2 separate regions of the Homo sapiens genome follow, and region 1 is linked to region 2. Evidence: fine-mapped QTL for protein levels in blood plasma. A gene starts in region 2. The other region holds a variant in brackets. All regions are shown on one strand. Distances are between the middles of the regions. Region 1 has its middle 73 kb from the start of NBPF8. Region 2 holds the start of REG4 (regenerating family member 4).

What was found. PIP is the chance, under the fine-mapping model, that this variant and not a neighbour inherited with it causes the effect. The UK Biobank Pharma Proteomics Project read protein levels with antibody pairs (Olink). The fine-mapping took linkage between variants from a reference panel, not from the people measured, so its PIPs are less certain.
Region 1: its variant is fine-mapped to the plasma level of the REG4 protein (UK Biobank, PIP above 0.99).

What each region holds. Positions count from the first base shown.
Region 1 is chr1:120,339,030-120,344,415 of GRCh38, reverse strand. It overlaps the pseudogene LOC124904391. Among named protein-coding and RNA genes, the nearest start is that of NBPF8, 73 kb to the left of the region's middle. The variant G/A (reference allele first, on the strand shown) is at 2,288.
Region 2 is chr1:119,808,991-119,814,376 of GRCh38, reverse strand. REG4 (regenerating family member 4) reads left to right here and starts at 2,917. Exons shown (of 6, transcript NM_032044.4): 1 at 2,917-2,968.

The DNA.
Region 1 (5,386 bases), 530 kb before region 2:
CAACTATTAATCTTTTTTAATTTTATTTTTATAGAAACTAAACTTCCCACATTAAAGGCCTGATAGCTCACACTATCCAGGAAATATCCTCTGCTACCAAGTCCCAACAGATGATTCAACTGGTCCTTAATGAATAAAAGGTGATCAAACAAGAAAAGAGACTTATATTGTTTGAAGGAAAGATGAATGTCTCTTCTTTCCTTAAACAAGAAGTAGTACTAACAAAGATTCCTTGCTTGGCCAAACTTTAGTCAGATGTCTATCTTCCTTGCAAAATCCAACTTTTTTTTTTTTATGTGGTACAATGTGATGTTTTGTTCTTTTTTTTAAATTTATTATTATTATACTTTAAGTTTTAGGGTACATGTGCACATTGTGCAGGTTAGTTACATATGCATACATGTGCCATGCTGGTGCGCTGCACCCACTAACTCGTCATCTAGCATTAGGTATATCTCCCAGTGATATCCCTCCCCCCTCCCCCCAACCCACAACAGTCCCCAGAGTGTGATGTTCCCCTTCCTGTGTCCATGTGTTCTCATTGTTCAATTCCCACCTATAAGTGAGAATATGCGGTGTTTGGTTTTTTTGTTCTTGCGATAGTTTACTGAGAATGATGATTTCCAATTTCATCTATGTCTCTACAAAGGACATGAACTCATCATTTTTTATGGCTGCATAGTATTCCATGGTGTATATGTGCCGCATTTTCTTAATCCAGTCTATCATTGTTGGACATTTGGGTTGGTTCCAAGTCTTTGCTATTGTGAATAGTGCCGCAATAAACATACGTGTGCATGTGTCTTTATAGCAGCATGATTTATAGTCCTTTGGGTAAATACCCAGTAATGGGATGGCTGGGTCAAATGGTATTTCTAATTCTAGATAGAATGTTTCCTCTTATAACTCATAGTGAATATGACTGGACAATGAAACTATTTTGTAATTTCTTTCCTGAAAGATAAAGGCGTTAGAACATAGAATCTTTCATTGATTCTACAGAATCTTAAGACTCCTTCAGAGATGGCAGTCATTCGTACCGTGCTGAACATCATGTTGTCACGGTCAGAATCAGAACTAAATTGATTAAGGTTCTGAAACAGTTTGGCACTCTTGGGCACTTATTCTGATAAGAAAGCTGATGAGACAGGGTAATGAAAAGAGGCTGCAAGAAATGACCATTCATGCATTCAGCCAACATTTAGGCCACCCTCCTGTATTCCAGGCACTGTACGTGGCACTGAGAATGCAAAGCAAAACGAGTCATGGTCTACTGGCGGGAGCCTTCTCAGCGGAGAAAAGATCAACAAGAAAAGTGCCTGCTGGAGACCTCTCCTAGGGCATAAACCAATATAGAGGTGGGGCAGCTACGTCAGCCTGAGGTGTCCTTAGGCAGAACAGAAAGTGAGAATCAGAGCAGTATCTCATTTCTGAACACCTGGATTGTAGCTTTCCCTGGACTGACTGTCAAAGGAGGTGGTTTTAAAAAGCAAGCCAAACAGGTTTCCGTCCTTTAGGAAGACCCTGGAACGTGCCAGTTGATTCTGACAATTTCTCATGAACAGAAACACCTAGGAAGGGAGAACTGGTGAGTCTTTTCAAGAAGAGGAAGTCCCTCAAAAGGGGCTGTGTTTCGCAAACGGCACCCCAAAAGGGCTGAAATACTTCGATCTGGAGGAAAAAGACTCAGGCACTGAGGGAAGGGGAGGGTGCACATCTGGGGTAATTTCAAGGCTTTTTCCGTGTTATCTGAGGTGGCAACAAGTAAAGATTTGTTCGTTTTATTATTTTTTTAATTTTTAAAGGTGTTCTTTTCCCCCCTTTTCCCCCTCCCGGCCACTCCGGTTTGTGTTTGCCACAAGACTCATAATTCCTTTAGAAAGTGGAGTCGAATTCATAAAAGTGATGGGGGGAGAGCGCGGAGAGGGAAGGCTGGGAGCCCCAGGGAGTCTTCACTACCTACACTGCCGCTCAGCTCCCGGCGCGAGTGGAGGTCGGTGTGGGGAGACGCGACTCCTGCCCGGGATGGCTGACACTCTGCGAGCCCCGGCGGCCCGCGGCCGGGCCGGGTGACTAGGCGGAGGGCGCGGAGGGTCCGCGGCGGGCGGGTGGCGCTGCAGCAGCCTGGGCACGGCTGCCGCCGCCCGCGGGCGAGAGTGTGCACGGGTGTGGAAGGCCGGAGTGCGGGCCGTGAGGGGTGTGCGCGCTTGAGCCGGAGCGGGGCTCGCCCCTCGTCGGCTCCCGCCGCCCAGCCGGTGATCGCTCTCCGGCCGTCCCCGGCACCCTC[G/A]GCCCCCCACGGCGGTTGGTCCGGGCGGGGGAAGGAGAAAGTGAGACTCGGTGTCATCACCAATCCATCGCCAGAAGGGGAGGTAATTGGAATCCAGCAGCGGCGAGCAGCAGCTGGGCAGTCACATCTGGAAATGGAAAGCCGACCTCCACCTCCTCCTCCTCCTTCTCCTCCTCTCACCCAGGATCACTTCCGAAACCAGTTGGCCTTCAGCCCCTGCCTCGGCCAGAGGTTTCATTTTTAACTGAATATTTACGAAAGCTGAAAGCGTGCGAGGGGGGTGGGGTGGAAATAGCGGCTGCTTCTTTTCCAAGGACTTATTTAATGGGGATGTGTTCAAGGCAAGACCGAATTCAGAAGGATATCGACGTCGTGATCCAGAAGTCCAGAGCTGAGGACTGCCTGTTTGCAGGTGAGTTCTTGCTTTTCCAGAACCTCGGACCCCGCGCCCCCTTCCCAGTTCTCTGACCGCGACGTGTGTGGCTGGGGGTGGGGTGGAGGGTTTGCACGTCCGCATTCCGGGGTTCATTTGGCAACAGCTGCTGCAACGAACACGGGAGCCAAAAGCCAGAGGGGGTGCCAGCCTCGCCCCTTCCCCTCCCCCCACCCCCAAGTCTGGGGCAGCTACCAGCTTTGAGGGCAGAACCCGCGTGGCCCGAGCGGGGGTCTAGGCGAAGGGGCAGTGCGTGGTATTTCCAGCCCCGCGTAGTGCCCGAAGCCTGCAAGCACGCCTCCTGGGTTCCAGCAGCGGCGGCAGAGCGGGGTTGGTTGGACCCGCCAGGTTTGCGTAATGGGCTGAGCGGCGGCGGCCGGGAATGGAGCTTGCTGCGCTGCGCTCGTAAGCTGCGCCCGGCGCCGAAGACCCCCGGGGGGCAGCGCTCGGCCCATCTCCGGCCCCTTCGGCTCCATCTAGTCCCCTCCGACTGGCAAAGAGAAGGGATTCCTCGGATTCCCAAGGCACCCAGCGCCCCTGCCTGGGGGGTCGCCTTTCGTCCATTTTGCTCCCCCGGGAGAGAGATCGGATTTTGCGTTCGCTGCCGCGAGCCCGGCGGGGCTGCTTCCGGCCTCCCCGACCGGGAAATTCCCGCCGTTGCCATGGCACCCGGCACTTGCTGCCGGGGGCGGCCTGCCGCTGCACCCAGTCGGGGGCGCGCCGCATCCCCTGGGACGCTGCGCGGAGAGACCTCGCCGCCCTCTAGCCCTCGCCTCCCGCCCGGCCAGGCCTCCCCTGACTCCACCAAATGGAGGGCCCAAGTCCTGATCGGGGTTAAAACAAATCCACTCCAGGGGTAGCTTTTGACAGGACTTTCTGTTTCAGATTTCAGATACTCAGACTCCACCTTTACTTTTACCTATGTTGGCGGCCCCAGAAGGTATTTATGGGTGTAGAGTTGCTTCATTTCCTGTTCACACTCTTGTGTTTCCTTTGTTCTTAGCGTGTTCCGTGTTCGGGTATTTTGGTTGCTTGTTTGATTACTGTGGCTTTTCTTTACCTACAACCCAAGCCTGACGTCCCTCGGTTTTAAATAGCAGGGGGAGGGGAATCAATGTTTGATTCAGGTGTTTCGAAGACCACGCCACAGGCGATGAGCAGAACTCTTCATGTTGAAACGGTTCTGCTACAGTACTAGATTGCTCTCAGGCGATTTGGGGTTGATACAGGCAAGCCGGTGCAAAACTGGAATACTGGATATGAAGTGAAATGTATAAAAGACATAAAATGTCACAAAATAGTTTGATCACAAGTGTTGATTTTCCTGGTGAGTTGGGGCTGCGTGTTTCCATGTTTTCTGAAGGTTCACATAAACATGCAGCCTGCCAATTCTCTGTATATTTTTTTTTTCAATGAGTGGTATTTCGGTTTTCACGTTTAGTTGTAAGACAGAAATTGGAGACTTATATGTAGCTGGAGTGGATGACTTCTTTCTTTTGGGGGAAGAATGAGAGATGCACATTTCGTTAGTAAATTGTGAACAACTTGAAACAAACCCAAATCCAATTGTGAATTTAAGAAGTAGAGTTAAAATGAAAGGTAGCCATTCAAATACTATGCCTTGCTGCCTTCACTTATTAAGTTAGGATTTTCTTCCTTTTAGCCCTTTAGGGATACAGTAGTTTAAAAGAGCAGTAGCCACATATGAAAGGATCAGATTTAGCTTAGAGGGAATTCCTTAGACCAGCCCTGCTGTTAAGACTTGACATTCAATATTGTTTGATCACATTCCAAAATATAGCTTAGCTAATGGCAACATTTGTAAACATATAAATTGCAAAAGAAGCTTTCTTGTGTACATACATTTTTAAAAGCTTGAAATTGATGTGAACTTTTAAAAACACGTAGGATCTGTATTACATTCTACATCTCAAAACAAATTTAATTAAAGTGAATATCATTCCAGTATATACAATATGCCTAAGACCCAGAATTGGCACACTGATTTACTAGTTGAAAATATAACAGTATTCACCAAACTTCAATGTATACTTTTTGGAGAGAATGAAATTACAGTATTTCTTAATTTACTGTAATGTCATCTTTGTAATTATGAATTAACAATTCAATGAGAGGAGACTTGGTTGATTAAATTAATGCTGGTCCTACACATTATATCTAAAGGATCTTCGTATATGACTACTATCTTCTTGGATTATTTTAACAGTTAAAATATACAAAGTGGCCCATTAAAAACAGAGTTGACTTTTCACCATTGCTGTTTTTCTGGTGAGACATGTGGAAAGGAAGGACAGGTGGACTTTTCAACTAACTAGCTCTCTGATTTTTAATAAGATACCTCAGTTCTTTTGGCCTCAGTTTACTTATCTGTACAAAGGGTAAGTCATATGCTTAATCACTAAGATCTGTTAGATACTGCAGTTAAGATTCTTTATCAACAAATTACTGAACTCTAGTGTTAACATAGCTAGAGGTGGAAAAGGAAGCAAGACCAGGTGTTGGGATGAATAATTAACTAATCGAGATAACATCAGTTTTCACCATAGGAACAAGTACCATCGTTGCTCTTAAAGTAAGAGATGTTTCCTATTTTATGTAATTTTACTAAGGGATAATGTTTTCTTTTGTCACTGATTTAAATGTAC
Region 2 (5,386 bases):
ATATTTATTGAATGAACTAATTAAAAGATGAATAAACACACCCAAACAAGGAATGAGAAAAAGGGCATTGCAAGCAGAGGAATGACATGAAAAAAGGCATGGAGGTGTGACCTTGAATGGGGTTGTTCCAGGGAGTACCAACATGTGGTGTTGATGGGCACAGATTTGACTGGATGGAGTATTAGTGCTGGAGGCAAGAGTGATATGAAGGTGTACGACTCAGAAAGATTTTCCTGCTATACTGAAAGTCTTGGTGAATGTGGGGCTCAATTGTAATATTTCATCATAAGTGCAGCAACATCAAGTTTGCATTATCAAAAAAGTACTCTGATAATACATATACTTAAATTAATATTTTCTAATGAAGTCTCAATTTAATCATGATCAGATCTTAGAATATTTTAACTTCATTCCTAACTCTCTTTAATCTCGTTTGTTATTGTCTGGTATTTTTGTTCCTACTTATATTAAAAATGAAATAAAGTTACTATTAATTTTATTTTAAACATTATTATAACTAATACAGTCAACACATTTCTTTATTGTAACACATCTTCTGGGATTATTTTATTTTTTGACAAAGGACACGCTTAAGCAGTAATTTCAATGAGTCTATGGATAGCAATCTTACTACGTTCTCATAACTTTAACATATCTTTTTGTCATACTCACCCTTAATGGTTGGTTAGCTGGGTACAGAATTCCAGGTTGAAAGTTGTTTTCCTTTGCACTTTAAAGCTAGTGTTCCATACTACCGAGCCATAAAAAGGAATGAAATAATGGCATTCACAGCAACCTGGATGGAATTGGAGACTATTATTCTAAGTGAAGTAACTCAGGAATGGAAAACCAAACACTGATGTTTTCAGTCATATGTGGGAGTTATGAGGATGCAAAGGCACAAGAACGATCCACTGGACTTTGGGGACTCGGGCGAAAGGGTGGGGGGTGGCAGGAGATAAAAGGCTACACGTTGGGTATAGTATACACCGCTTGGATGATGGGTGCCCCAAAATCTCAGAAATCACCGCTAAAGAACTTATCATGTAACCAAACACCACCTGTTCCCCAAAAACCTATTGAAATTAAAAATAATAAATAAATAAATAAAGCTACTATTCGAAAGCTGCCTGGCTTCCACTTTATCTCTCCATTATGGTGCCATCCCCATCCTTGTCACTTTGAAGGTGATCATTGCTGATTTGGGGCTTTTAGGATTCTCACTTTGACCATTTCATGTATGAGGTGTTTATATGTAGACTTTTTTTTTTTAAATAAACTTACTATTCAGTGGACCTTTTTGATTCAGACAATTTTCTGGTCCTTTACATTCTTACATCTCAAAGGTTTATGTGAGTCCTATCAATGCCTTAATTTGGAGCTAGTCAATGTGAGGGTTCAGTAAGAGACCTCTTAAAAGTCCTATGAACATCTTGTTTTCTAATCTGTTCTACTCTCTTCTCTCTCATCTCAAGTCTTTAAATCTGGATAATGGCATGGGGATAGCAGACTAAGGGTTGGGATGGCTGCTGGAAACACAGGAGATCTATCTAATCACCCATTTTGTTAAAACTTTTCTGTCTTACATCTGGACCAGGACTTCTGAAATTGAAAGGCTTGGAGTTAACATCTTTGTACGCCATTGTGCCATGAAGCAATGATGATTCCCATCCAGCTGCCTAAAGAGAAAGAGGTTTGTGTCAAACATTCTGATGGGAGAGATTCTTTAAAATGTTCTTTGTGAACCATGAAAGCATTACTTTCTCATGTCCTACCATGAATTTACACAACTGATGCAAAAATCTAATAACAAAGGTTGAGTAGCATTTTCCAAACAACAGTGAGCTGGGAGCAAGGAAGCTGGCTTCTGATATCAGCTTCACCCACAACTGTCTGTGCATTAAACTAGTCACAATGTTTCTCTAGGCCTCAATTTCCTCACCAGTAGAACAAAAGAGTAAGATTTGATAACTACTATGGTCCCTTCCAGACTTAAAGTTTCCAGACATAAAGGTCCTTTACAGACTTAAATCTGTAGTTTAAAGTTGAGTCATCTCTGGCACCTACAACCTAACCCTTTGCCATCTATACTGGAAAAGAAAATCTTGTTACTCTTTTCAAATAGCCTATTTTTCAGTAGAACTGTATTTTGGCAAACACCTATATTTGGAGTCAGAAGGACAAGGTTCAGTGTCCAGGTCCACTGCTGACCAGTGTTGTGAACCTCGGAAGGTTTCTAATCTCTCTTAAGGTTGGGTTTCTTGAGTGTGTAATGGGGATATGTGTCCTATGCTGCTCACAAGGATTTTGTTGGCATCTTATTTGATGACTTCACTGAAAACCCGTTATTGTAACACACTCTGTTGATGTAAGCTATTTTGACATGATCATCCATGTTCTGCGGGAGAAGCTCAAATAGTAGATCTCTGAGGAAACTCACGCATGTTGAAGGAGTGGAGTCGGTGCTTTAGGAAGGAAAATCTGTGTGTGGGTCTCAAGTCTCACCGCATGGGTCATAACCTATTCCTGACCCTGACAGAAAATCCTTCTAGAAATAAAAGAGAAATAAAGGAAATCCACCATACCAAGGCATAAAAAGACAGCCATGAAAAAGTAACATAAGGGGAGAGGAAGATGGGCTTATAACAGATTACAGGATGTTGTCAGTTTTAATAACGTGATGTGAAGAAAAGATTCTGTTTGCACACAGGGAGAGGTTCTTTTCCTGGCTAGTCAAAGCACACCTTACGTACATTCTGAAGCCGTCTCTTATATGATTCATTTTTTTCACTGTAGATAAGACTTTTATGGATGGATTGTTTTTCTCAAATAATATTATCGCTTTGTGACTAAAGTAAAGATTATTAATTCCTGAGGCAAGAAGATATAAAAGCTCCAGAAACGTTGACTGGGACCACTGGAGACACTGAAGAAGGCAGGGGCCCTTAGAGTCTTGGTTGCCAAACAGGTAATCCTCCTCGCGGTTGATGATGGGGGACTTTCTTTAAACATCTGTTTTCCTCTGTCAGCTATTAGCCAGGCCAGAAATGACAAATTGTATTTCTAGTGAGGCTTGTCAGGCTTTCTGTTGCTGTGTTGTTTGATTTAAATTATTTACCTTCTTTTCTTCCTTCACTGCAAAGAGCATTGGCTTTGGTGTCAAGCTGTTGGGTTAAATCTTGGCTCTGCAGTCTGGTAGCTGGGAAACTTTAGAAAAGTTACTCAATCATAAGTGTCAGTGTCTTCATTTGTAACATGCATTCATGAGATCTACAGTGCAGGTTTTTTGTTTTTGTTTCTGTTTTTGTTTTTGTTTTTGTTTTTTTATGGAGTCTTGCTCTGTCTCCCAGGCTGGAGAGCAATGGTGCAATCTTGGCTCACTGCAACTTCTGCCTCCCAGGTTCAAGTGATTCTCCTGCCTCAGCCTCCTGAGTAGCTGTGATTACAGGCACTTGCCACCACGCCCAGCTAATTTTTGTATTTTTTAATAGAGACAGGGTTGTGCCATGTTGGCCAGGCTGGTCTTGAACTCCTGACCTCAGGTGATCCACCTGCCTCAGCCTCTCAAAGTGCTGGGATTTCAGCCATGAGCCACCACACCCGGCCCAGTGCAGCTTACTTATGAACATGACATGCAGACATTCAATGAATATCAGTTCACTAAAAATTATTCACAGATTAGTAAAAAAGATGCTGCCTCTCCCTTCCCCCAGATGGTCACCTTGACAGAGAAATTCTGTTTGCGTTTTAAAGGGGTTTGAGGACATTGAAAATACACTATTACTTTTGGAAGGAAAGTTTAGCAAAGTGCAAGGTTCACGCAATGATTTAAAAAGAAGTAAGGGGTGGGGAAGGTCACATCCACACTCTCCAAGCTTTGTCTCATTCTCAGTTAATGTTGCCTTAAAGTGTTCAGATGGACCCCAGAATTGATTTTCCAGAAAAGTCATCATTTACATTATTCTCTTTAAGCAATCCATTATTTGAGAGTTAGATTGTATATTCAGATTTTTTAATCATAAAGTATGATTAAATGTGAATTCAATGAATTAACTCATTTTAAGAATTATTTGGGAGGGAAATCCAGAACTCAGTTTCATACTTATGTTAAAACAAAGCCCAGACAGATGAAAATAGAACAGTGATAAATATTTTAACCTTATGTGACAGTAATGGCCAGTCTTTTGATATAAATTTAAAAATTATTTTTAAAAACATAAAAAATAACAATATTTTTGAAAATTTCAGAATGGCAAAAATTATAATAAGTAAGAGAAAAATACAAACTGAGAAATACTATTAGTAACACGTGAAAGGCAATAAACATACAAAAAAGATCTCACAAATAAACATACAAAAAAGATCTCACAAACAATGAAATAGAAAAATGTGCAAAACTGTAAAATGAAAATTCACCAAATACTAAAAGCAAATCATTATATAAAAAGATGTTCAACTTCATTAGTAATTATAAAATATTTTAAAACACTAAGGTTCTTCTTTAATATACCAAAATTAGCCAAAAACTTGACAAAATTAAGCATTCTCTGGGAGCTTAGGGAACCAATCCTTTTAGTGCCCTATTAATGAGGTAAATATCACAGCCCATACATTTTAACAAAGGGTATTAAAATGACAATGTGCATGTTGTGTGATGCCACAACCCTATATATGAGAATTTATACTAAAGAAAAAATAAAAAATGCATGAAAGTTATGTGAGTGCAAGACAATGTATTACAATTAATCTGTTTCTGAGAAACAAAACCAGGCTATAGGACTATATGATCTTATTTTTATAAAATTGTACACAGAGAGAGGTGCATAGAAAGATATCTGTAGGCTACTCACCAAATTATCTCCTGGAGATGGGATTTACTTCTTATTTTCTAGTTTTGCATTGATTTTCTAATAGCTCATGTGTTGTTTGCTAATGGGGAAAAGATAAAGCCATGTTCTTTATTTTTAAAAATGATGTCAACTAAGTGTAAAGGAAAGAGTGCTGATGGAGTCAGATCTGCTTATAGCTGGTGTCCATGAACAAATGACTTCATACTTACTGACCTCAGGTTTTCTCATCTGTAAAATGTGGGTATTGGACACTGTGCTCACGTTTAATTTTAACATTTAAAAATTCAATGTCGGAGCCATTCTATTGGATTTTCTTGACAACAGAATGCCCATATCCGTCTTACCTGTGAGGAAGCTTGCCTTGGGCGCCCTCTGCTGGCCCTCCTGAAGCTAACAGGGGCGAGTGCTCGGTGGTTTACAAATTGCCTCCATGCAGACTATGAAACTGTTCAGCCTGCTATAGTTAGATCTCTGGCACTGGCCCAGGAGGTCTTGCAGGTAAGAACAAAATCTCTTAAAATTTTCTAACCTGTACA